4 separate regions of the Homo sapiens genome follow, and regions 2, 3 and 4 are each linked to region 1. Evidence: fine-mapped expression QTL. A gene starts in region 1. Each other region holds a variant in brackets. All regions are shown on one strand. Distances are from middle to middle. Region 1 holds the start of ZNF425 (zinc finger protein 425). Region 2 has its middle 9.4 kb from the start of CUL1. Region 3 overlaps ZNF425 (zinc finger protein 425). Region 4 overlaps ZNF282 (zinc finger protein 282).

What was found. PIP is the estimated chance that this variant, and not a neighbour inherited with it, causes the effect. A credible set is the group of variants that fine-mapping cannot tell apart.
Region 2: its variant is the best candidate, but not a certain one, in a credible set for the expression of ZNF425 in prefrontal cortex (BrainSeq, PIP 0.79).
Region 3: its variant is the best candidate, but not a certain one, in a credible set for the expression of ZNF425 in nasal epithelium (TOPMed, PIP 0.53).
Region 4: its variant is the best candidate, but not a certain one, in a credible set for the expression of ZNF425 in lung (TOPMed, PIP 0.55).

What each region holds. Positions count from the first base shown.
Region 1 is chr7:149,123,593-149,129,239 of GRCh38, forward strand. ZNF425 (zinc finger protein 425) reads right to left here and starts at 2,732. Exons shown (of 4, transcript NM_001001661.3): 1 at 2,604-2,732. The coding sequence starts at 2,621. It also overlaps the pseudogene RN7SL521P and a transcript of ZNF398 not described here. RefSeq lists enhancers at 646-1,146, 1,147-1,647, 1,895-2,446, 2,447-2,998, 3,662-3,711 and silencers at 2,157-2,330, 3,062-3,501.
Region 2 is chr7:148,686,635-148,692,281 of GRCh38, forward strand. No RefSeq gene overlaps it. Among named protein-coding and RNA genes, the nearest start is that of CUL1, 9.4 kb to the right of the region's middle. RefSeq lists a silencer at 4,447-4,673. The variant T/A (reference allele first, on the strand shown) is at 3,343.
Region 3 is chr7:149,097,222-149,102,868 of GRCh38, forward strand. It overlaps ZNF425 (zinc finger protein 425), which reads right to left. Exons shown (of 4, transcript NM_001001661.3): 4 at 5,563-5,647. Among named protein-coding and RNA genes, the nearest start is that of ZNF786, 9.3 kb to the left of the region's middle. The variant G/A (reference allele first, on the strand shown) is at 3,071.
Region 4 is chr7:149,213,322-149,218,968 of GRCh38, forward strand. ZNF282 (zinc finger protein 282) reads left to right here. Exons shown (of 8, transcript NM_003575.4): 7 at 380-493. Among named protein-coding and RNA genes, the nearest start is that of ZNF282, 21 kb to the left of the region's middle. The variant A/C (reference allele first, on the strand shown) is at 2,620.

The DNA of each region.
Region 1 (5,647 bases):
ACAATCTTGGCTCACTGCAACCTCTGCCTCCCAGGTTCAAGAGATTCTTCTGTCTCAGCCTCCCGAGTAGTTGGGTTTACAGGAGCGCGCCACCACACCCGGCTAATTTTTCTATTTTTAGTAGAGACCGGGTTTCGCCATGTTGGCCAGGCTGGTCTGGAACTCCTGACCTCAGTTGATCCGCCCGCCTCGGCCTCCCAAAGTGCTAGGATTACAGGCGTGAGCCACTGCGCCCGGACTTGCTTTTTCTTTTTTTTTTTTTTTTTCCTTTTTGAGACGGAGTCTCGCTCTTTCGCCCAGACTGGAGAGCAGTGATGCCATCTCGGCTCACTGCAAGCTCCGCCTCCCGGGTTCACGCCATTCTCCTGACTCAGCCTCCCGAGTAGCTGGGACTACAGGCGCCCACCACCACACCCGGCTAATTTTTTGTCTTTTTAGTAGAGACGGGGTTTCACCGTGTTAGCCAGGATGGTCTTGATCTCCTGACCTCGTGATCCGCCCGGCTCGGCCTCCCAAAGTGCTGGGATTACAGGCCTGAGCTACCACGCCTGGCCTGGCCTTGCTATTTATTTATTTATTTTTGAGATGGAGTCCCCTCTGTCGCCCAGGCTGGAGTGCAGTGGCGTGATCTTGGCTCACTGCAAGCTCCACCTTCCGGGTTCACGCCGTTCTCCTGCCTCAGCCTCCCAAGTAGCTGGGACTACAGGCCCCCGCCACCACGCCCGGCTAATTTTTTGTAATTTTAGTAGAGAGGGAGTTTCACCGTGTTAGCCAGGATGGTCTCGATCTCCTGACCTCATGATCCGCCCGTCTTGGCCACCCAAAGTGCTGGGATTACAGGCGTAAGCCACCACGTCCGGATGGCCTTGTTATTTTTACAATGTGATTTCAACCAAATTCCTCTACAGTTTTATTGTACCTCACCCATATTTTTTTGTTGTTGTTGTTGTTGTTGGTTTTGTTTTTGAGACGGAGTTTCGCTCTTGTTGCCCAGGCTGGAGTGCAATGGCACGATCTCGGCTCACTTCAACCTCTGCCTCCTGGGTTCAAGCGATTCTCTTGCCTCAGCCTCCCCAGTAGCTGAGATTACAGGCATGCACCACCATGCCAGGCTAATTTTGTATTTTTGGTAGAGACGGGCTTTCTCCATGTTGGTCAGGCTGGTCTCGAACTCCCGACCTCAGGTGATCCGCCCGCCTCAGCCTCCCAAAGTGCTGGGATTACTGGCGTGAGCCACCACGCCCGGCCACCCATGTGTTTTCCACCTATAAAATTCCCATTTATGACCACATTTACAATTAGCATTAAACTGCTACAGTGGAAAGGAAAATCAAGAAAACGATTTTTCCTTGCCTATCCCAAATAATACATTAGCCAATAAACTGTTACCACATTTTCTATAAATTCAATGTACAAAGAAGAGCTACCACAAACTTTCCCAGAACAGAGAGGAATATTCCAGGAGATTCCCAATCACTTAAAGAGGAGAGAAAAAAAGAAAGCCTGGCTGTAGAAACAAAGCTTGGAGAAATCAGAAAAGAATCTGTACCTGCCAAAGGAGGGTGGGGAAAAGGAGTGGGAAGCAAAAGGGAAGAATCAAATGCAAATAAGGAGCATTACATTCCTAAGATTATAAAATTTCATTGGGGGCACAAGAAAAACTTGCACACTTAAGCAAGTTATACTTAACTGAATGTAACAGGGTTTCTTGGATTAAGCCTCAGGATACGCCTTTCAAACTCTAAAACCGGTGCTCAAATTTTCAATACTACATTACAATACTACAGCATTTACGGTAAATTCGATTTACGCTAACCACCCAATTCATTTTAAGTTTTCTGTCCTTTCCTAGAGGGAGCGGTCTCCAATTTCTCTCAGTTCCAGCTTTCCTTCTCCTTTTTCTCATCTGCTTAACACTGATGTGCTTCTCTGAAACTACCTTCAGCAGGAGAGCACGGGCCCCAGAGAGACCCCGAGGTTCAGAGCCCCGACACTGAAGGCAGGGACAGCGTTGTTGATCTGAGCCTACAACAGGCCGAGAAACAGATCTTTCCCACCCGGATTCTTTCTCCCAAACCAACTTTTATTTATGTATTAAACAGACGGGGTCTGGCTGTTGCCCAGGCTGGAGGGCAGTGGCTATTCACAGGCGCGATCCCACTAACGATCAGCACTGGGGTTTTGCCCTGCTCGGTTTCCGAGCTGGGCCGGTTCCCCCTCCCTGGGGAACCTGGTGGTCCCCGCTCCCGAGAGGTCACCACACAGATGCAGAACTCAGAGGCACCGCGCGACGGACCTAGCGCATATACAGCGCAGAGCTCCCGGGCTCAAGCGCTGCTCCCGCCTCAGCCTTCCGAGTGGCCGGGGCCACAGACGCGCGCGGCCAAGCCCGGCCAGACCAGCTTTTCCCCAGGTCAATTCCAGAACAGCACACGCAGCAAGACTGCACCTTCTCCAGCCCAGCCCGGAGCTCAGTCCGTGGGCCACTGCCAACCCCCAGGCCCAGGCCCCGGCCGCCCCACTCCCTGGACGCGGACCCCAATCCAGCTGCGACAGGGACCCGAGTTTCGACAGAGCCTGCATCCTCCACCGGCCCTTCTTACCGAAGCCGGCTCGGCCATGGCGGTTCCGCACGAACCGGCCCTGCCTGGCACGGCCTCCCCTCCGCTCCGCCCCAACCCAACTCCCAGGTACAGCCCTGCTGGCCCCCAAAGGCAGAGCCGGCCGGGCGCGGTGCATGCTGGGACTCGGCGCTCGGAAGCGGAAGCCGCTCCGCCCCATAGCGCCCCCTGCGGGCGGGAGGAGCGGCGCCGCCAGAGGGAGTCGGTCCTCAGAGGAGGGGCCCGGGCACCCTCCGTGCGGGCCGCAGCACGCCGGTCTTTGAGGGACCCTTGGACTCCCGGATCTGCATGCGAGGGATGCGGTCGAAGACGAGATGAGGGAGCTGACGGGAGGGGAAACGGAGGGGCAGGTGAACATGGAGAGAGCAGGAACAGGGAGAGAGTAGGGACAGCGACTGGGAGACGCGCTCCACAGAAACCCGGACTGAGAGGCAGCGAGAGGGTGAGAGTCCGGTGCTGTTCCTTCCAAAGCTGCCCCCAAGTCAGGGATGAGCTCGAGGGTTTCGTTTGTGAGGGGGTCCCGGGAATCCAGCGAGGCCGGGTAGGTGGTGGGGGGCGCGCGGTGGCCCGGGGTGTCCGTCCCGCCGGGGGCGCGGAGGCCGTGTGGGCCCCGGGCATGTCCCGTCGGGGACGCGGAGGAGGGGTCCGCCCACCACGTCCGGTCCCCGTGGGTGCAGCGCCCTTCTGGGCTCCCCGAGCGTCCACACTCCCTCCTTGGCAGAGAAAGGCCTCGGGCAGAGACCCCATGCGGAAGCCACCCCGGCCTCGGGGCCGCCTGCGGGGACTCAGGGTCGCCCAGGGATGCGGGCCGGGCACCCCTAGCCCCCGGCGGGAGACTGTGACAGAGCGGGAGAAGACGGAGGAGGCCATGACACAGGGCGTGAGAAACACGAAGACGCAAAAACGGGAGAGGTGGGAAGACGCAGAAGGGGAAACCAGGGAGAGACAGAAAGGAGAGAGAGGGCAAGGAAGGGGGTGGCGACTGTCCCCAGAAAATCAACCTCGCATTCTGTCCTAGTCATGTTTTAGGTGTCAGGCTAAAGTAACAAATGAAAAGTGTGTAGTTAGAAAGGATGTCCATGAGAAAGTAGTCCCTGCATAGGCTGAGGAGCGTGTGCACATCTGTATTTGTCCCGGAATCGTGAAATGTAGATGCACCTTACTGATTAAAGGGTTAAAAAAAAAAAACCTTACATTAAAACTAACGTTTCGGATGGGCGCGGTGCCTCACGCCTGTAATCCCAGCACTTTGGGAGGCGGAGGCGGGCGGATCACGAGGTCAGGAGAGCGAGACCATCCTGGCTAACGGCGAAACCCCGTCTCTACTAAAAATACAAAAAAAAAAAAAAAAAAAATAGCCGAGCGTTGTGGCGGGCGCCTGTAGTCCCAGCTCCTAGGGAGGCTGAGTCGGGAGAGTGGCGTGAACCCGGGAGGCGGAGCTTGCAGTGAGCCGAGATCGCGCCACTGCACTCCAGCCTGGGCGACAGAGGGAGACTCCATCTCAAAAAAACCAAAAACAAACAAACAAAAAAACTAACGTTTCTTTGGGTGTAAAGTTCTATGAATTTTCACATATGTATGTATACGTGTAGTAACCACTGTAACCAGGATACGGAAGAGCCCTGTCCCACCCTGAAACTCCTTGTGCTGCCATTCTCTTCTGTGCTTCATTTGCTTTATGGTCACTCCCTCCGACACCTGGATCCTTGGCAAGGACTGATCTGCTCTTGAAACCTAGTTTTCTCTTTTTAGAAATGGTATATAAATGGAATCATACAGTATGATATAACCTTTTGTGACTGGCTCCTCAAAAGCGTAATGCTTTTGTGATTCATCCATGTTTACGAAGAGTCAAACTGTAAAATATTTAGAAGTTTATTCTGAGCCAAATATGAGTGAGGAAGGCCAAGGTACTGTCTGAAGAGGTCCTAAGAACATGTATCCAAGGTGGTTGGGTTACAGCTTGATTTTACACGTTTTGGGAAGACTTAAGACATCAGTCAATACATGTAAAGTGTACACTGGTTCTGTCAGGAAAGGCGGGACAACTCCAAGCGGTGCTTACAGGTCACAGGCGGATTCAGCGATTTTCTGATTGGCAATTGGCTATCTGAAGACCAGGTTCATAGAAAGGAGTGTCTGGGTTAAGATAAGGGGTTGTGGAGACCAAGATTCTTAGGATGTCTCATAGTGACTGTCTTTAGATGGCAAAAATTTCCTATTTAAACCTTTAAAAGGTGCTAGATTCTCTGGCCGGGCGCAGTAGCTCACGTCTGTAATCCCAGCACTTTGGGAGGCTGAGGCAGTAGGATTGCCTGAGCACAGGAGTTGAAGACCAGCCTGGGCAACATGGCGAAACCCCATCTCTACAGAAAATACAAGATTTTGTCAGCACAGTGGCAAAGACGTTAATCTCAGCTATTTGGGAGGCAGAGGTGGGAGGATTACTTGAGCCTGGGAGGCGAAGGTTGCAGTGAGCACAGATTGTGCTGACACTACAGCCTGGGTGAGAGAGGAAGACAGAGGGAGACTCTGTCTCAAAAAAATAAAATAAAATAAAATAAAATTATATATATATATATATTGTTTGTTTGTTGGGTTTTTTCCAGACGTAGTCTTGCTCTGTTGCCTAGGCTGGAGTAGAGTGGTGTGATCTTGGCTCACTGCAACCTCCGCCTCCCAGGTTCAAGCGATTCTCCTGCCTCAGCCTCCCAAGTAGTTGGGATTACAGGTATGTGCCACCACATTGGGCTAATTTTTGTATTCTTAGTAGAGATGGGGTTTCACCATGTTGGCCAGGCTAGTCTTCAACTCTTGACCTCGTGATCCACCTACCTCGGCCTCCCAAAGTGCTGGGATTACAGGCATGAGCCACTGTGCCTGGCCCTATATTTTCATATAAATATATAATATATACTGCAAAGAAGCATATTTGGGGATAAAATATTTTGATTTCCTTCTTTGTCATGCAATGTTATGCCAGAGTCAGGTTGGAAACTAAGCGGTTATATAGGGTTAAATAAAAC
Region 2 (5,647 bases), 440 kb before region 1:
CACACCTGTAGCACCAATCCAATGGGATTATATCCTGCTCTGTGCAAGGTAGAGCCACCCTTCCTTCCCTTGTCTAAGCTAAAAAGCTATTTTTCTCACTACAGGGAAGCAAAACAAAAAGTAGGTCAGTTAGCAAGTGGTTTATGAAGTGCTTACTCAAGAAACACATCTCGGTAAATGCTTGACTATTTTTCAAACATGTGTGTACCCTGGGATTTAAAAAAATCACTTTATTTTGACCATTAGAGTTTTATATTCACTCTTTACATCGACTCATCTTATTCTATCAGGAAAACTTAAGTGTCTTAAGCGTCTGTGGCTCCGAGTAAATTTCTGTCTGTTACCAGTTTCTTCCAGGTTGTCTTGCCGGTACCTCCAAAATACAAGTGCCCTTGCACTGTCCAAGGAGCATTTCTTTCAAAGGCAATTAAGTCGGCTGTCTTAAAATAACCAGGGATTAGATTACTGAATATTTACCCATTTCTAATCCTTTAGTAAAAGGTTAGAGCTGTTGGAAGGAAAGAGGTAGGAAAAAATAAAAGGAAATATCATTGACAAAAGAATCAGGGGCCGGGTGCCATGGCTCACGCCTGTAATCCCAGCACTTTGGGAGGCCGAGGCAGGCAGATTACAAGGTCAGGAGATCGAGACCATCCTGGGCAACATGGTGAAACCCCATCTCTCCTAAAAATATCAAAATTAGCCTGGCGTGGTGGTGCACACCTGTAATCCCAGCTACTCGGGAGGCCGAGGCAGGAGAATCGCTTGAACCCAGGAGGCAGAGGTTGCAGTGAGCTGAGATTGCACCACTGCACTCCAGCCTCAGTGACAGAGTGAGACTTCATTTCAAAAAAAAAAAAAAAAGAAGAAGAAGAATGAGGAAGACATATTGGCTTCCCAACTGGGAGGAAAATTTGAGTTTTTCTCTTGAATATTTAGTTGCCAGCCTCCCACCTACGTTGTCTCTCCTGCTCTCCTACCCAATCATGCAAGGGGAATCTTTGAAATTCTTGTTTTCATGTTGGTATTTCTCTCTTGTTTAACTGTTAAGGTCACAGAAACAGACTTGTAGGCTGATGCAGTCCTCAGAGGAGCCAAAACCAGAGGAGTTGTGGTTAATAGCACTGACTAAGTTTCTGGGACATTATCAGCAAAAATAACATACAGCTCTCATTGTTCAGTGAGTTTGATTTCTGAACTTACTCTGTCAGCAGAACTAGCCAGATTTCAACTGTAAATTAATCCAGATTTCAACTATAAATTAAACATATATTCTTTAAGATCAGGCGCAATGGCTCATGCCTGTAATCCCAGAACTTTGGGAGGCCAAGATGGGCAGATCACCTGAGGTCAGGAGTTCAAGACCAGCCTGGCCAACATGGCGAAACCCCGTCTGTACTAAAAACACAAAAATTAGCCAGGCGTGGTAGTGCGCACCTGTAGTCCCAGCTACTTGGGAGGCTGAGGCAGGAGAATTGCTTAAATTGGAAGGCGGAGGTTGCAGTGAGCCGAGATTGCCTCACTGCACTCCAGCCTGGGTGACAGAGTGAGACTCTGTCTCAAGAAAAAAAAAACAAACAAAAATACCTTTATTCTTTAAAAATGGTCGGAGAAATTAGGCAAATTCTAAAGCGGTCTCCTCCCTTGGCATCCCATAGAAAAATTAACTGGCAAAAAAGTACCTTTTCCCATAAAGTGGCAGTATAATATCTTTCTAGTTATTATCTGTTAATTGATGATTTCAGCCTGCCAGCTCCATTTTTCCATTCCCAGAGTGAATATCAAGTCAAAAGCAACTAACCCTACAGACCAAGAAAACAAAGCTCTAAAGCCATTGAAATTTCTTAAATTCTCTGTGTACATTATCTTAATACTATAATTGTTCTTTAAAATACATCATATAAACAAATGGTGTTGATGGGCTATGCCATGTTCCTGGCATGAATGTAGTATGACCTGGAAAACACACTTCATCATTCATGACTAGAATGTTCTCTCTGATTTATGCCAATAAAAACTTGGAATAATCCAAGATATACTTTACAAGTATTACATGAGAGCATGCATGCAAGAATTGTGACTCAAACACTTAAAACCCATTTTTGGCAATTGAAAAAAGAAAGTTCGGGAGGAGGAGGGGTTTGTCAGAGGTCTTTTGCTTGGTGTTTATTAAGAAACACCAGGATACAGTGAGGGCAAAGAGGCTGAGGAAACTTCAGAGAGAAGATGACATTGGATCAGGAACCTGAGGAATGATTGAGATTTCTCCACAGAAAGAAAAAGGAAGAGGACATTTCCAACAAAGGAAAACCAGGAGCACCCAAATGGCCTGGGAAGCATCTGCCTGGTTTCAAGTGTGTCTGCAGCACAAGGTCTAGGAAGAGACGAGGCAAGAACAGACACTGGGAAAAGGGACTGAGGTCTCAGCGTGAAGATGATTATTGAATGTCTTGTTCCAGTACGTGAAACCATCAAAAGTTTGTTTTGTTTTGTTTTGCTTTTTTGAGGCAGAGTCTCACTCTGTCACCCAGGCCGGAGTGCAGTGGCGCGATCTTGGCTCACTGCAACCTTCATCTCCCTCCCGGATTCAAGCAATTCTTCTGCCTTAGCCTCCAGAGTAGCTGGGATTACAGGCGTGTGCCACCACACCCGGCTAACTGTTATATTTTTAGAAGAAACAGGGTTTCACCATGTTAGCCAGGCTGGTCTCGAACACCTGACCTCAGGCGATCCTCCCACGTTGGCCTCCCAAAGTGCTGGGATTATACACGTGAGACACTGTGCCCGGTCCCATCAAAAGTTTTTGATAGCTATATTAACAGTGATAATAACATACTAATGTTTTCTATGTATCAAATATCCAACACCAAGAAATGCTGTAATTTATTTGTTAAAATCTCCTGTGAAGTGTCAACTATTCCCTGTTTTTTTGTCTTGTTTTGTTTTTTTGAGAAGAGTCTCACTCTGTCATCCAAGCTGGAGCGCAGTGGCACGATCTCGGCTTACTGCAACCTCTGCCTCCGGGGTTCAAACAATTCTCGTGCCTCAGCCTCCCATTACAGGCGCCTGCCACCACGCCCAGCTAGTTTTTTTTGTATTTTTAGTAGAGACAAGTTTTCACTGTGTTGCTCAGGCTGGTCTCGAACTTCTGAGCTCAAGCAATCTGCCTGCCTCAGCCTCCCAAAGTGCTAGGATTACGGTGTGAGCCACCACGCCTGGCCAGTATTCCCATTTTATAAGTAGGAAACTGAGTCATAGACAGATTAAATAACTTGTCCAAAGTCAAACAGGAAGTAAGCAGTAGAGCCAAGATTTAAACCTGGGTGCTAGCTCCAGAGCCCA[T/A]GCTGTCTTGCTTCTTGAGGAAGTCATGACCATATTTTAGAAAAATAGCTCCACAGCTGTGTGGAGGATGAATTGGAGGAGACCAGAGGCAGACAGACAGTGAGGAGGCCCTTTCAGCAGTCCAAATGAAAGCAAATACAGGAACAAACTCAATGGGATCTAATAAACAAATGGAGCAGGGAAAGGGCAGAACAGGAAATAACTGAGGCTGCTAACTTGAATAACTGGGCAGATGGTGATGCCAATATAAGAGACAGAAAAACAAAGGAAAAGATATGAGATGGGTCAGGGGTAGAATAAGGAATAATGGTCTTTATTTGAGGCCAAATGGTTTGAAATATGAGGGACGTTCAAGTAGAGAGGTCTGGCAAGCAGCTAGAAAATCAGACCTGAAGTGTGGGAGAGGTCAAGCTGAAGACAGAGATGGACCGCTACTCTTGAAGGTAGCAAACGTTAACTTCAGCTCTCCTCACCCGCATGGGGTCTTCCAAGCACCTGGCAAGGGCCTTAGCAATATGTTCATGTTGTCATGTTTCTTTTTTGTAAAAATTTCAAAAGTAGGTTATTTTTGATGTGATTAAGACCAAGACTGTTACCTCTTTCCACCCTAACATCTTCTTCACACGTCCCCCCAGGTCAGGTGGCACTGGAGTCCTCTAGGCATTTTGGGGGACCTGTTTAGGGGCAAGATAAGTTTGAGATACAATATAGGTTGGGCTTCATGGGATACATTTAGGGGAGTTCCGTGTGTAACTAAGTTATTGCTAGCCATCCTAGCATAGACATTTTCTTAAAGAGTACTCCTGTGTTAAATTATATAAACTTCAAGCACCATGAAACCTAGAAGTGTCCCTGAATAAAGTCGGAGATGATAACTTGACATAGATGACAAGTGAAACTGACAAGATCACACAAGAAGAAGATGTAGCAAGAAAAGATGGCCAAGAATGGAACCTTCAGGAACCCACATTTAAGAGGAGGGTGGAAGAGAGCCAGATGCAGAAAGATTTATCAGCTAGAAAAGCCATGAGGGCATAAGAGTCTGGGAGTCAAAGGATGAGTGGTTTCATGATGGAGGGGCAGGTAGAACGAACATCAAATGCAGGAGAGGAACTGTTGAACTTAGTAGGTGTGTAGAGATGGGCTGAGTCACTAGGAGGTAGGAAACTTGAGGCAATGAGTATAAATTACTTTTTTTTTTTGAGACAGAGTCTCACTTCATCACCCAGGCTGGAGTGCAGTGGTGTGATCTTGGCTCACTGTAACCTCCGCCTCCCAGGTTGAAGTGATTCTCCTGCCTCAGCCTCCCGAGTAGCTGGGATTACAGGTGCCTGCCACCACGCCCAGCTAATTTTTGTATTTTTAGTAGAGATAGGGTTTCACCATGTTGCCCAGGCTGGTCTCGAACTCCTGACTCAAGTGATCTGCCCACCTCAGCCTCCCAAAGTGCTGAGATTACAGGTGTGAGCCACTGCGCCCGGCCAAGTATAAATTACTTTTTAAAGAAAGAATATCCCATTTGCTACATCCGGGGTATCCCACGTAGTTCTTGTGGTGTTTAATGTTATGCGTCAACTTGGTCGGACCGTGGTGCCTGGATATTTGGTCAAACATTATTCTGGATGTTTCTGTGAAGGTGTTTTTTGGATGAGATTAACAGTCATTGGTGGACTTTGTTTTATTTATTTTTGTTTGTTTTTTCTTTTCGAGACAGAGTCTCACTCTGTCATCCAGGCTAGAGTGCAATGTCACCATCTCAACTCACTGCAACCTCTGCCTCCCGAGTTCAAATGATTCTCTTGTCTCAGCCTCCCAAGTAGCTGGGATTACAGAGGTGCGCCTCCATGCCTCGCTATTTTTGTATTTTTGTATTTTTGTAGAGACAGGGTTTCACCATGTTGGCCAATCTGTTCTCGAACTCCTGACCTCAAGGGATCCACCCACCTCGGCCTCCCGAAGTGCTGGGATTAATTACAGGCATGAGCCACCGTGCCTGGCCTCATTGGTGGACTTTGAATAAAGCAACTTGCCATCCATATGTGGGTGGGCCTCATCAAATTGGTGGAAGGCCTTAATAGAGCAAAAGACTGACATTTCTTGAGCAAGAAGAAATTCTGCCACCCTGATGGCCTTCACACTTGAACTTCAACATTGGTTCTTCTGTGAGTGTCCAGCTTGCCAACCTACCCTGCAGATTTTGGACTTGCCAGCCTCCATAATTTAATACAGTCCTGTAGATACAAACTTGTTCAAGAATGTCTTTAAGAAGCTTACCCAGTGCAAGGGGAGAAGTGGAATTCACATC
Region 3 (5,647 bases), 26 kb before region 1:
GGAAGCAGACAGAGTTTCAGTGGGGAGTGCTTTAGAGGAAGGAATTTAGAGGTGCTGGGAGAAGAGACAAGCATATAGCTAAAACATTCCTTTTCTCTGGACTGAATCATGGAATGTGAGGGAGGTGATGTGAGGGAGGGAAGGCATTCCAGACAGACGAGAGTCATGAGAGAATATAATGCACTTGAGAAAGATACATGCTGTGCGATGAGGCTGAGGCTCACATTGTGAAGGTCAAACTGAAGCGGCAGGTCAGGGTCAGCTCACAGGTTCTTCTAGGTCCCGCCACCTCGCCCGGCTAATTTTTTGTATTTTTAGTAGAGACGGGGTTTCACCGTGTTAGCCAGGATGGTCTCAATCTCCTGACCTCGTGATCTGCCCATCTCGGCCTCCCAGAGTGCTGGGATTACAGGCGTGAGCCACCGTGCCCGGCCTTTTCTAGGTCTTATTAAAGAATGCATTTATAATAAAATGGGAAACTTCTTCTTTTTTTTTTTGAGACAGTCTTGCTCTGTTGCCCAGGGTGGAGTGCAATGGCGTGATCTCAGCTGACTGCAACCTCCACCTCCCGGGTTGAAGCAATTCTCCCACCTCAGCCTCCCAAGTAGCTGGGACTACAGGCATGTGCCACCATGCCTGGCTAATTTTTGTATTTTTAGTAGAGACGGGGTTTCACCACGTTGGCCAGACTGCTCTTGAACTCCTGACCTCGAGTGATCCGCCCGTCTCGGCCTCCCAAAGTGCTGGGATTACAGGCATGAGCCACCGCGCCCGGCCAAAATGGGAAACTTCTAAGTATTTCTTGAAGGGACCAATGTTAGAATTGCATTTTAGAAGAACCCATCTGGCAGATGGATGATAAATGTACTGGAGGAAAAAAGCCAGAAGCAAGGAAACCTGTCAAGGAAAACACTATTAAATAAATAAATAAATAAATAAAGTGAGCTTCAAGTAGTAACAACAGAGATAGCGAGAAAGGATCTTGTTTGGGAAGAATCAGGAGCTAGATGCTAGATTGGGTGTAAGAAAACCTAGGTGCATCATCAGATTTATAACTTTGGAGATGAGGTAGATTTAGTATACAGAGGTAGGAAATACAGAACAGTCTAACAAAGAAGGGTAGAGGCCGGGCACAGTGGCTCATGCCTATAATCCCAGCACTTTGGGAGGCTGAGGCAGGCGGATCATTTGAGGTCAGGAGTTCGAGACGAGCCTGACATGGTGAAACCCTGCCTCTACTAAAAATACCAAAAAAATAAAAAATAAAAAAAAAATAAGCTGGGCGTGGTGGCGGGCGCCTGTAGTCTCAGCTACTCGGGAGACTGAGGCAGGAGAATTGCTTGAACCTGGGAGGCAGAGCTTGCAGTGAGCCGATATCGCGCCACTGCACTCCAGCCTGGGTGACAGCACGAGACTCTGTCTCAAAACAAAACAAAACAAAACAAAAAAAAAAAAACGGCCGGGCGTGGTGGCTCACGCCTGTAATCCCAGCACTTTGGGAGGCCGAGATGGGCAGATCACGAGGTCAGGAGATCGAGACCATCCTGGCTAACACGGTGAAACCCCGTCTCTACTAAAAACACAAAAAAATTAGCCAGGCGTGGTGGCGGGTGCCTGTAGTCCCAGCTACTCGGGAGGCTGAGGCAGGAGAATGGCGTGAATTCGGGAGGCAGAGCTTGCAGTGAGCCGAGATGACGCCACTGCACTCCAGCCTGGGCGACAGAGCGAGACTCCGTCTCAAACAACAATAACAACAACAACAACAACGGGGGTAGAGTGAGGGTTGATACAGGTGACAAGTCTTACTTGGGGCATTTTGTGTTTGAGATGTTCATGGCACAAGTTGAAAATATGGATTTATAGATTTGAAAGTCATTAGCACATATGTGGTAACAGAAGAGATGGCTGTACCAGATGCAGCTAGGGACAGCCAAATAGTCACGCACACAAACAGCCATAGCTTGCTGCTGGTTTTGGAGGTGGGCGCGCTTCTCCCTCATTCTTGGTGTTCCTCTCCACTGAGGGGGAGCTCCGTGAGCACAGCACTTGCAGCCTCTGCCTCCTCACCCACTTTGCTCAGGTCATGTGCACGCTGGGCTCTCCTGTGTTAGTTTTATGACTAGTAAAGGTGTCATGTTGATCTTACAGTCACACTGGGGGTTAGGGATTCAACCTGTGAATTTGGAAAGGGGAGGGGACATGATTCCGTTCATAACATGGGGTTACATCTTACTGAATGCCTACTCTTTTTTTTTTGAGACAGGATCTTGCTCTGTCACCCAGGCTAGAGTGCAGTGGCATGATCTCAGCTCACTGTGACCTCCGTCCTGGGTTCAAGTGATTCTCCCATTTTAGCATCTCGAGTAGCTGGGGCTATGGGTGCATGCAATCACGCCCGGATAATTTTTGTATTTGTAGTAGAGACAGGGTTTTCCCATGTTGGCCAGGCTGCTCTCGACCTTCTGCCCTCAAGTGAACCACCCATCTCGGCCTCCCAACGTGCTGGGATTACAGGCATGAGCCACCGTGCCGAGCCCTGAATGCCTACTCTTGACTAGACACTATGTATTTCACATTCATAATCTCATGTTCATCCTCACATTATAGTGTCCATTATTAACTTGGCCTTTATTTCCAGAATCTGAGTACTGGTCATGAAACAATTTATACTCCCTTACTTAGGTGACCAGATTTGGGGGCAAAGACAGCTTAGATAGAAACTTCTACTTGGCTCCTGATAAGCATGAGCATCTGGGAAGTTCCAGGTAATGCTTACCACAGTTCCTTTCTCCTTTCTTGTTTTTTGTTTGTTTTTCTTTGAGACGCAGTTTCGCTCTTGCTGCCCTGGCTGGAGTGCAATGGCGCGATCTCGGCTCACTGCAACCTCCGCCTCCTGGGTTCAAGCATTCTCCTGCCTCAGCCCCCCGAGTAGCTGGGATTACAGGTGCCTGCCACCACGCCCAGCTAATTTTTTGTATTTTTACTAGAGACAGGGTTTTACCATGTTGGCCAGGCTGGTCTCAAATTCCTGACCTCAGGTGATCCACCTGCCTCGACCTCCCAAAGTGCC[G/A]GGATTACAGGCGTGAGCCACCGCGCCCTGCCCTTTCTCCTTTCTTTCTTTTTTTTTTTTTTTGAGAGTCTCCCTCTGTCACCAGGCTAGAGTGCAGTGGCACGATCTCAGCTCACTGCCACCCTTGCCTCCCGAGTTCAAGCGATTCTCCTGCCTCAGCCTCCTGAGTAACTGGGACTACAGGCGCGTGCCACCAGCCCAGCAAATTTTTGTATTTTTGGTAGAGACGGGGTTTCACCATATTGGCCAGGATGGGCTCCATCTCTTGACCTCGTGATCCGCCCGCCTCAGCCTCCCAAAGTGCTGGGATTACAGGCATGAGCCATGGCGCCTAGTCTCTCCTTTCTTAAAGCTACCCCTCCTCCTTGTTCTCAGCTCCTCCCCATTCTCTACCTGCACTTGGTCACTTTCTTCTCCTAATTCCTGCCTCGGTTTGACCTCAGAAGCACTCCTTATTGCTGTTTCTGTGCCAGTCCCCCATGTGTGGACTGGGAGTGATTCTGTAGGCCACTCCATGTACTGCAATCCATCACCTAACTCATACTAGAGAATGCCTGTGTTACCAGTATAGCTGAAAAACAGCATTTATTTTTGTAGATGTGGCTGATTTTCATAAAGGTACCCTCCCCTCACCATTATATTAAATGGAGAAAGTAAAACTTACAGAGCTCTAGTGTCTTGCCCAAGGCCAGAGCGAGGGTCTGTTTTATTTTGTGGGACTTACTCTAAGCCCTGTGCTTTCTGAACTACGTCATGGAACTGCCCCTTCTCTTCTGTGTTCTACTCAGCCCCATGCTTTTGCTTCAGCCACTCAGGGTAATATCTCTCACTGACATTTATAATCCTTTAACTTCTTCTTTGACCTCTTTCTGCAGCATGTGGTACTGTGGGGTACTCATTATTATTATTATTATTTTCATTTGTTTAGAGATAGGGTCTCACTCTGTCACCCAGGCTGGAGTGCAGTGGTGCAAACATGGCTCACTGCAGCTTTAACCACCTGGGCTCAAGCAATCCTCCCACCTCAGCCCCCAAGCAGCTGGGACTACAGGTGCACACCACCATGCCCTGCTAATTTTTCTAAGTTTTGTAGAGATGGGGTTTCGCCATGTTGGCCAGGCTGGTCTCAAATTCCTGACCTCAGGTGATCCACTCACCTTGGCCTCCCAAAGTGCTCAGATTACAGGCATGAGCCACCGTGCCTCACCCATTATCTTTTAAAACTCTTTCTGAAAAGCATTTTTTAAAAATGTCTTTATTTTCACATTATTTTATTTTTAGTTCTGAATCTACCTGTTAAACTGTTGGCATTTCATTTATCTGATCACTGGCACTTTAGTTTTGTTTTTTGAGGTGTACCACATAAATAGCAGCCTATTCCCTACCCACAGGACTGTCCCAAACACAGGCGGCACCTTTTTCCTCTTTGTATAGATGCTGTGATTCTTTTTTCCTTTTTTTGAGACAGAGTCTCGCTCTGTCCTCCAGGCTGGAGTGCAGTGGTGAGATCTCGGCTCACTGCAAGCTCCGCCTCCCGAATTCACACCATTCTCCTGCCTCAGCGTCCCGAGTAGCTGGAACTACAGGCACCCGCCACCACGCCCGGCTAATTTTTTGTATTTTGTATTTTAACACGGGTTTTCACCGTGTTAGCCAGGATGGTCTTGATCTCCTGACCTCGTGATCTGCCCGTCTTGGCCTCCCAAAGTGCTGGGATTACAGGTGTGAGCCACTGCGCCCGGCCGACGCTGTGATTCTTGTAGCGACTTTGATCCCAGCAGATTCTGACTTCGGTAACTGGGGACCATGTTTTGTGCAACACACACAAAATTTATGAAGGTACTCAAATTTCCTAAGGAAGGCTGTAAGTTATCCTAACAGTAATGTCAAAGGCTGGGTGCGGTGGCTCATACCTGTAATCCCAGCACTTTGGAAGGCCGAGGTGGGCGGATCACGGATGTCAGGGGATGGAGACCATCCTGGCTAACATGGTGAAACCCCGTCTCTACTAAGAATACAAAAAATTAGCCAGAAGTGGTGGCAGACGCCTGTAGTCCCTGCTACTCGGGAGGCTGAGGCAGGAGAATCACTTGAACACAGGAGGTGGAGTTTGCAGTGATCTGAGATGGCGCCCCTGCACTCCAGCCTTGGTGACAGAGCGAGATTCCATCTCAAGAAAAAAAAAAAACGAGTAATGTCAAAGATTGACAGTCTGAGAGACAGATGAGGGTTTGCCAGAATAGCCTGGAAAATCTTATAATGTTAGATTAGGCGACAGGGCAAAAAAAAAATAGTGGTGCTGTGGACTGACAGTATTTTATCCTTTGGTATTTTCCTCAGAGACCCTAATGTTAAGTATAGTTCTTTGAGAACTGACATAACACTGTTGAAAATGCAGAGGGGTTAGATAAATAACACTGCCTGTTACTCACAGTGGTGGACTTTTAGGTGATTTAAGTAAAATTCAGAAGGAAAGAACACATGGGTAATCATTTTAACAAATGAGATAGTGGAAGACATTTATTTTTAGCAATATGGAAACATTCCAAGAAACAGAAGCCCTCTCACCATCTGAGA
Region 4 (5,647 bases), 90 kb after region 1:
CATCGCTGGTTTCTAAATCATACCTGTTAGCCATGGCCCTGAGGGCCGTTATCTGGGGCTTTCTTCTGGCCTGTCCTGGCCCCATGGGTTCCTCTGGGGCTAAGTGGCAGAGCTGGGAGATCTGGGTTTTAATCCCGGCCCTGCCACTGCACAGACCTTGGGCTAAGCCTCCTTCTGGCCAACTTGAAATGCATCGAGCAGTGAGAGTCCATTTAGGAAGGGGCTTATGAGGGTAAGGAGGATGGCCTGGAAATGCAACACCGATACCAAAACATGCCCTGCAGGTTGCAGCCACCGCATGGGATGGTTTTCAAACCTTTGATGGGAGGCCGAGTAGAACTGAACAAAATCTAAGACTGCCTTCTTTCCATGACAACAGAGTCTCTCATCTCAGCACATGACATTTTGTCATGGATCAAGCAGGAGGAGCAGCCATACCCATGGGGACCACGCGACTCAATGGACGGAGAGCTTGGATTAGACTCTGGCCCTAGTGAGTAACGTCCCCACCTAGACCCTGGGGTTTCTTCTCTGGAGCTGTACAGCTGAGGCGTGGACGAAGGCTGGTCCTCTTCTCAGCTCACCCCTCGTAGGGTGATGTTCTGTTGATGGCAGCGTTTCAAAGTTCTGCACCAAAGCACTCCCATTCTTTTTGGAGTGTGATATTGTATTAGCTCCCCAGGACTGTCATAACAGGGTACCACAGGCTGGGCAGCTTCAACAATAGAAATTTATTCTCTCACAGTTCCACAGGTTGAAAGTCCAAAATCAAGGGGTGGGCTGGGCCTTGCTCCAGACTTCCTCTGAAGTCTGTATGGGATTCCTCCCTCGCCTCTCCCAGCTTCTGCTGGGTGCCAGGAACCTCTGGCACTCCTTGGCTTGTAGATGCGTTGCTGCAAGCCTCTGTTGTCACATGGTGTTCCCTTGTGTCTGTCCTCACATGCCATCTTATAAAGACACCAGTCATATTGGATCAGGGCCTCCCTACTCTAGTATGACCTCATCTTAACTAACTACATCTGCAATGACCCCGTTTCCAAATAAGGTCACATTCTGAAGTCCTGGGGGTTAGGACTTCAACATATTTGGTGGGGAGGGGGGAAGGCACAATTTAACCCTTTATGGCAGGGAGGGGAGGAAGGGAGAGGGGCCGGGAGATTGCTGAGCCAGTGTGCCCGAGGCAGTTGACAGCAGCAGGTGGCTCACATGCTGGAAGACACTAGCCAGGCTGCACACGGTGGCTCACACCCATGATCCCAGCACTTTGGGAGGCTGAGGTGGAAGGATCTCTTGAGCTCAGGAGTTTGAAACTAGCCTGGGTAACATAGTGAGACCCACAGGGTCTACAAAAAAATTAACAAATTAGCCAGGCGTGGTGACTTATGCCTGTGGTCCCAGCTACTCTGGAGGCTGAGGTGAGAGGATCGCTTGAGCCTGGGAGGTCATGGCTGCAATGAGCCATGCTTGCACCACTGCACTCCAGCCTGGGCGAGAGCGAGATCCTGTCTCAAAAAAACCTGAAAGAAAAAACAAAAAACACTAGAAGTACCCCAGGCATCCCTGAGCTACCATCCCGGAGTCACTGATGAACACACTGAAGCTCAAAGAGAAAGGGAGGATTGTTTTCCCAACAGGTATGGAACCAAATGTCTCACCAGACTTGGGTCTCTTGGGTCTTTCTGAAGCTCCCTTATTGACCTATGACCCTAGGCATATGTTTATGGATTGTTGAACATTCTTAGCTCAGGCTAATATTCCTCGCTAAAACCCAGTACCATCCCCTTGCCCTCAACATGGCTGACCTAGTGTCTTCTGGCTGGTCAAAGGCTTAACAGAATAGCTGCATGTGTGTTCCCTGTCCATATTTCCTGACATTTTTTTTTTTTTTTTTTTTTTTTTGAGACAGAGTCTCACTCTGCCGCCCAGGCTGGAGCGCAGTGGTGCGATCTAGGCTTACCACAACCTCCGCCTTCTGGGTTCCAGCAATTCTTCCACCTCAGCCTCCCGAGTAGCTGGGATTACAGGTGTGTGCCACCATGCCTGGCTAATTTTTGAATTTTTAGTAGAGACGAGGTTGCACCATGTTGGCCAGGCTGGTCTCGAACTCCTGACCTCAGGTGATCTGCCCACCTTGGCCTCTCAAAGTGCTGGGATTACAGGCATGAGCCATAGTGCCCAGTGCTGACATCTTGAAGGAGCTTAAACTTCACGTAAGAGCGGAGGACATGGGTTGTTTCTGGTTCTGAACAGCCATTTCAAACTCAGGCAAGCGGATCACACTCTCTATAAGACAACTTAGTTCTAGAAGAGCCAGTGTGGGCCTGGAGGAATTGGCAGGAACGAGATAGGAACAATGTATGTCCTTATTTCAAGTAGAATTGAAAGCGGTCCTCTTTGTAACTGCTGGCTTGGTGGGATGAGATGGGGGAAGCCAGGAAACTGGTGGTGAGCACCGGAAGAAAGCCAACTCCATCTCTTCCTCCACAGCTGGTAGGCTACCATTGCTAGCCCTGGCCCGAAGGCATAGGAACTAGTGCATCTGACCTGGGGCCAGGAAATTCTGCCCAAACCCTTCCTTATCCCTCAATGCTGTCTTCTGATTCTTCCCAGTTGGCTAGG[A/C]GCATGTGGGCCTAGAGGAGCCTGTTCTTGGGGACTTGTGCTGTGTGGAAAGCAGTCTAGGAAGGCCCATAGAGAACTTGCAAGGATTTGCAAAGGACCCCACCATTTTCCTACTTAAGTTTGGATATCATAGAATGATTTGCCTCATGTTGTTTTATCTTTTTTTTGTTTGTTTAAAGACAGGGTCTCACTCTGCCGCTCAGGCTGGAGTGCAGTGGTGTGATCCTGGCTCACTGCAGCCTCCATCTCCTAGGTTCAAGTGATGCTCCTGCCTCAGCCTCCCAAATAGCTGGGACTACAGGCATGCACCACTGTGCCTCAGTAATTTTTTAAAATGTTTTGTAGAGATAGGGTCTTGCTATATTACCCACGCTGGTCTGAACTTCTGGCCTCAAGCAATCCTCCCACCTGGGCCTCCCAAAGCTCTGGGATTACAGGCAGGAGCCACCAGGCCCAGCCCGTTATTTTATATTTGAAGGACCTTTGAACCCTAGCATTTGGGAGGAAATGCACAGAATTTAGGAGATAGGAGTATCTGGAAATGGTTCTCTTGCCTGCCAAGTCACGACAGCCTCTTATCAGAACCTCTGTTCTTTCTCCCAAAGTGAGCCTGCTTCCTATTTATCAGTGTTGGAATTTGACACTGGCCTGTCATCTGTGGTTTCTTTGATGTTTAAAACCAACCTAGTATTGTGGTTGCCAGGGACAGCCAGATGGTAGCCATGCTATTATGTGGAAGAGTCTTCTGGAAAGGGGATGGAGGGGAGAAGAGTCAGGGTAGAGAACACAGTGCAGACACGGGATACCTGTCCTTGCCAACTTCCTTCTCCAGCCCTGGGATATGTAAGAGGGAAATAACTGGTATCCGTTTGACTCAAAGGCAGACCTCAACCCAATTGGATATTACATTCTTGTAAAAGGGACTCCTGAATTTATTTATTAATGAGTGTATACTGAGTCTCGCTCTCAGCATGTTAGTGTAAGACAAGAAGAAGATTCAGTTTGCCCAAAGTTAATGTACATCAGTGCCTCCACTGAAGCAGGAAGCGTAGCTAGGACTCTGGAGTGCAGTGGCTAAAAGGTGCTTCCGGAGTGAGAGGTGGTAAAGATCCTGAAGCTGGGCCACCATTCCCAGGTGCCAACACCCACAGAATATGACGTGAAAGCACCCTCTTGAAATTCCCACATTATTCACTACATTGGGTTAAAACAGTGGTTCCAACCTTTCATAGTTTATATTTTTTTTAGCAGGTATTTACTTAATGCCTGCTATGTGTTACACAGTATTGTAAGCACTTAGAATAAGCAGTGAAGGGCCAGGTGTGGTAGCTCAGGCCTGTAATCCCGGCACTTTGGGAGGCCAAGGCAGTTGGATCACCTGAGGTCAGGAGTTCCAGACCAGCCTGGCCAACATGGTGAAACTCCGTCTCTACTAAAAATACAAAAAACAAACAAACAAACAAACAAAAAACAACTAGCCAGGAGTGGTGGTGGGCACCTGTAACTCCAGCTACTTGGGAGGCTAAGGCAGGAGAATTGCTTGAATCCGGGAGGCGGAGGTTGCAGTGAGCCAAGATTGCGCCCCTGCACTACAGCCTGGGTGGCAGAGTAAGGCTCTGTCTCAAAAAAAAAAATTGGGAGTGAAGAAAGACCTTTTCTTTTGTGGGAAGAGGATGAATAAGCAGGCCAGCAAGCAGGCAAGGTAAAGCCAGGATGCAGCAATGCTCTGAGAACAATGGCAGGGAGAACAGGAAGGAGTGTGGACATGAGGCAGAGCAAAGACAGAGTGGTCAGGAAAGGCCTCCGAGGGGAAGCGGTGCCTGACTGAGTGTGCCCTTGGCAGTGGGAAGGAGCCGGCCGTGGGGTTGCAGGGGGAAGAGAAGACCAAGAAGAGGGAAGTGAAGGCAGGGCCATGGAGGCTTTGGGGAGGAGGATGGAGCCGTAGACTGAGGCACCTGAGCATGTATGACCTATGGGCCAAGTTAGAGTTTGGATTTTATTCTTACAAGAAAGGAGACTAGGCCGGGTGTCATGGCGGGCACCTGTAATCCCAGCTGCTCGGGAGGCTGAGGCATGAGAATCCCTTGAACCCAGGAGGTGAAAGTTGCAGTGAGATCATGCCACTGCACTCCAGCCTGGGTAACAAAGCGAGACCCTGTCTCAGAAAAAAAAAAAAAAAAGAGAGAGAGAGAGACTAATAAAGGGTATGAAATCGGACATGATCTGGTTTACGTTTTTATAGGATTTCAGGAGTGGATTGGCGGGGGGTGCGGAGCCATGTCTGAGGCTCATGCATTTGATGCAGACCAAGTGGAGAGATGCTGGTGGTCAGAGCTGGGGTAGCAGCAGTGCACAGGGAGAGAAAGGACAGATTCAGATGCACTTTGAGAGTGTCACTCATGGGTTGCCTGTGGGGGCTGTGGAATCAAGACTGACTCCTGGGTCTGGGTCCTACAGAAGTGGGTGAATGGTAGTACTGTTTGCTGAAGTGCCAAGCCCTGGAAAAGAACCTGTGTTGCTGGTTCTAGTTTGGAGTCAAGAGTTCTAGTTTGGACCTATTAAAATTTGAGGTGACACTCAAGTAGCAGATCAAGTAGGTGAATATAGGAGTCTGAAGTTCAAGAGAGAGCTTGGGGATAGACTGATTTGGGAGTTACAGGTTGCAGTGACTTCCAACATCAGCGACCTGTAATTGGCCAAACCTCACAGGTTGAGGGCTCATGCCTCCACAGGACCGTTCTCTCTTCAGACACCAGCTGCAAATTTGGGGGTTCTAGGCCACCCTCACTTCTGACCAGCTGGCTACAAATTCTGGGCTTCCCATCACCCCGTCATAATTTGCTAGAATGACTCATAGAACTCAGGAAAGTGCTATATATATCATTACAGTTTTATCACAGCAAAAGGATTCAAATCAGAGCTAGCCAAAAGGAGATCCATAAGGCTAGGTCTGGGATGGTCCTAAGCCTGAAATTTCCATTGTTCCCTCCCTGTGGAGTCAGGATGTGTCACCCTCCCAGCATGTCAA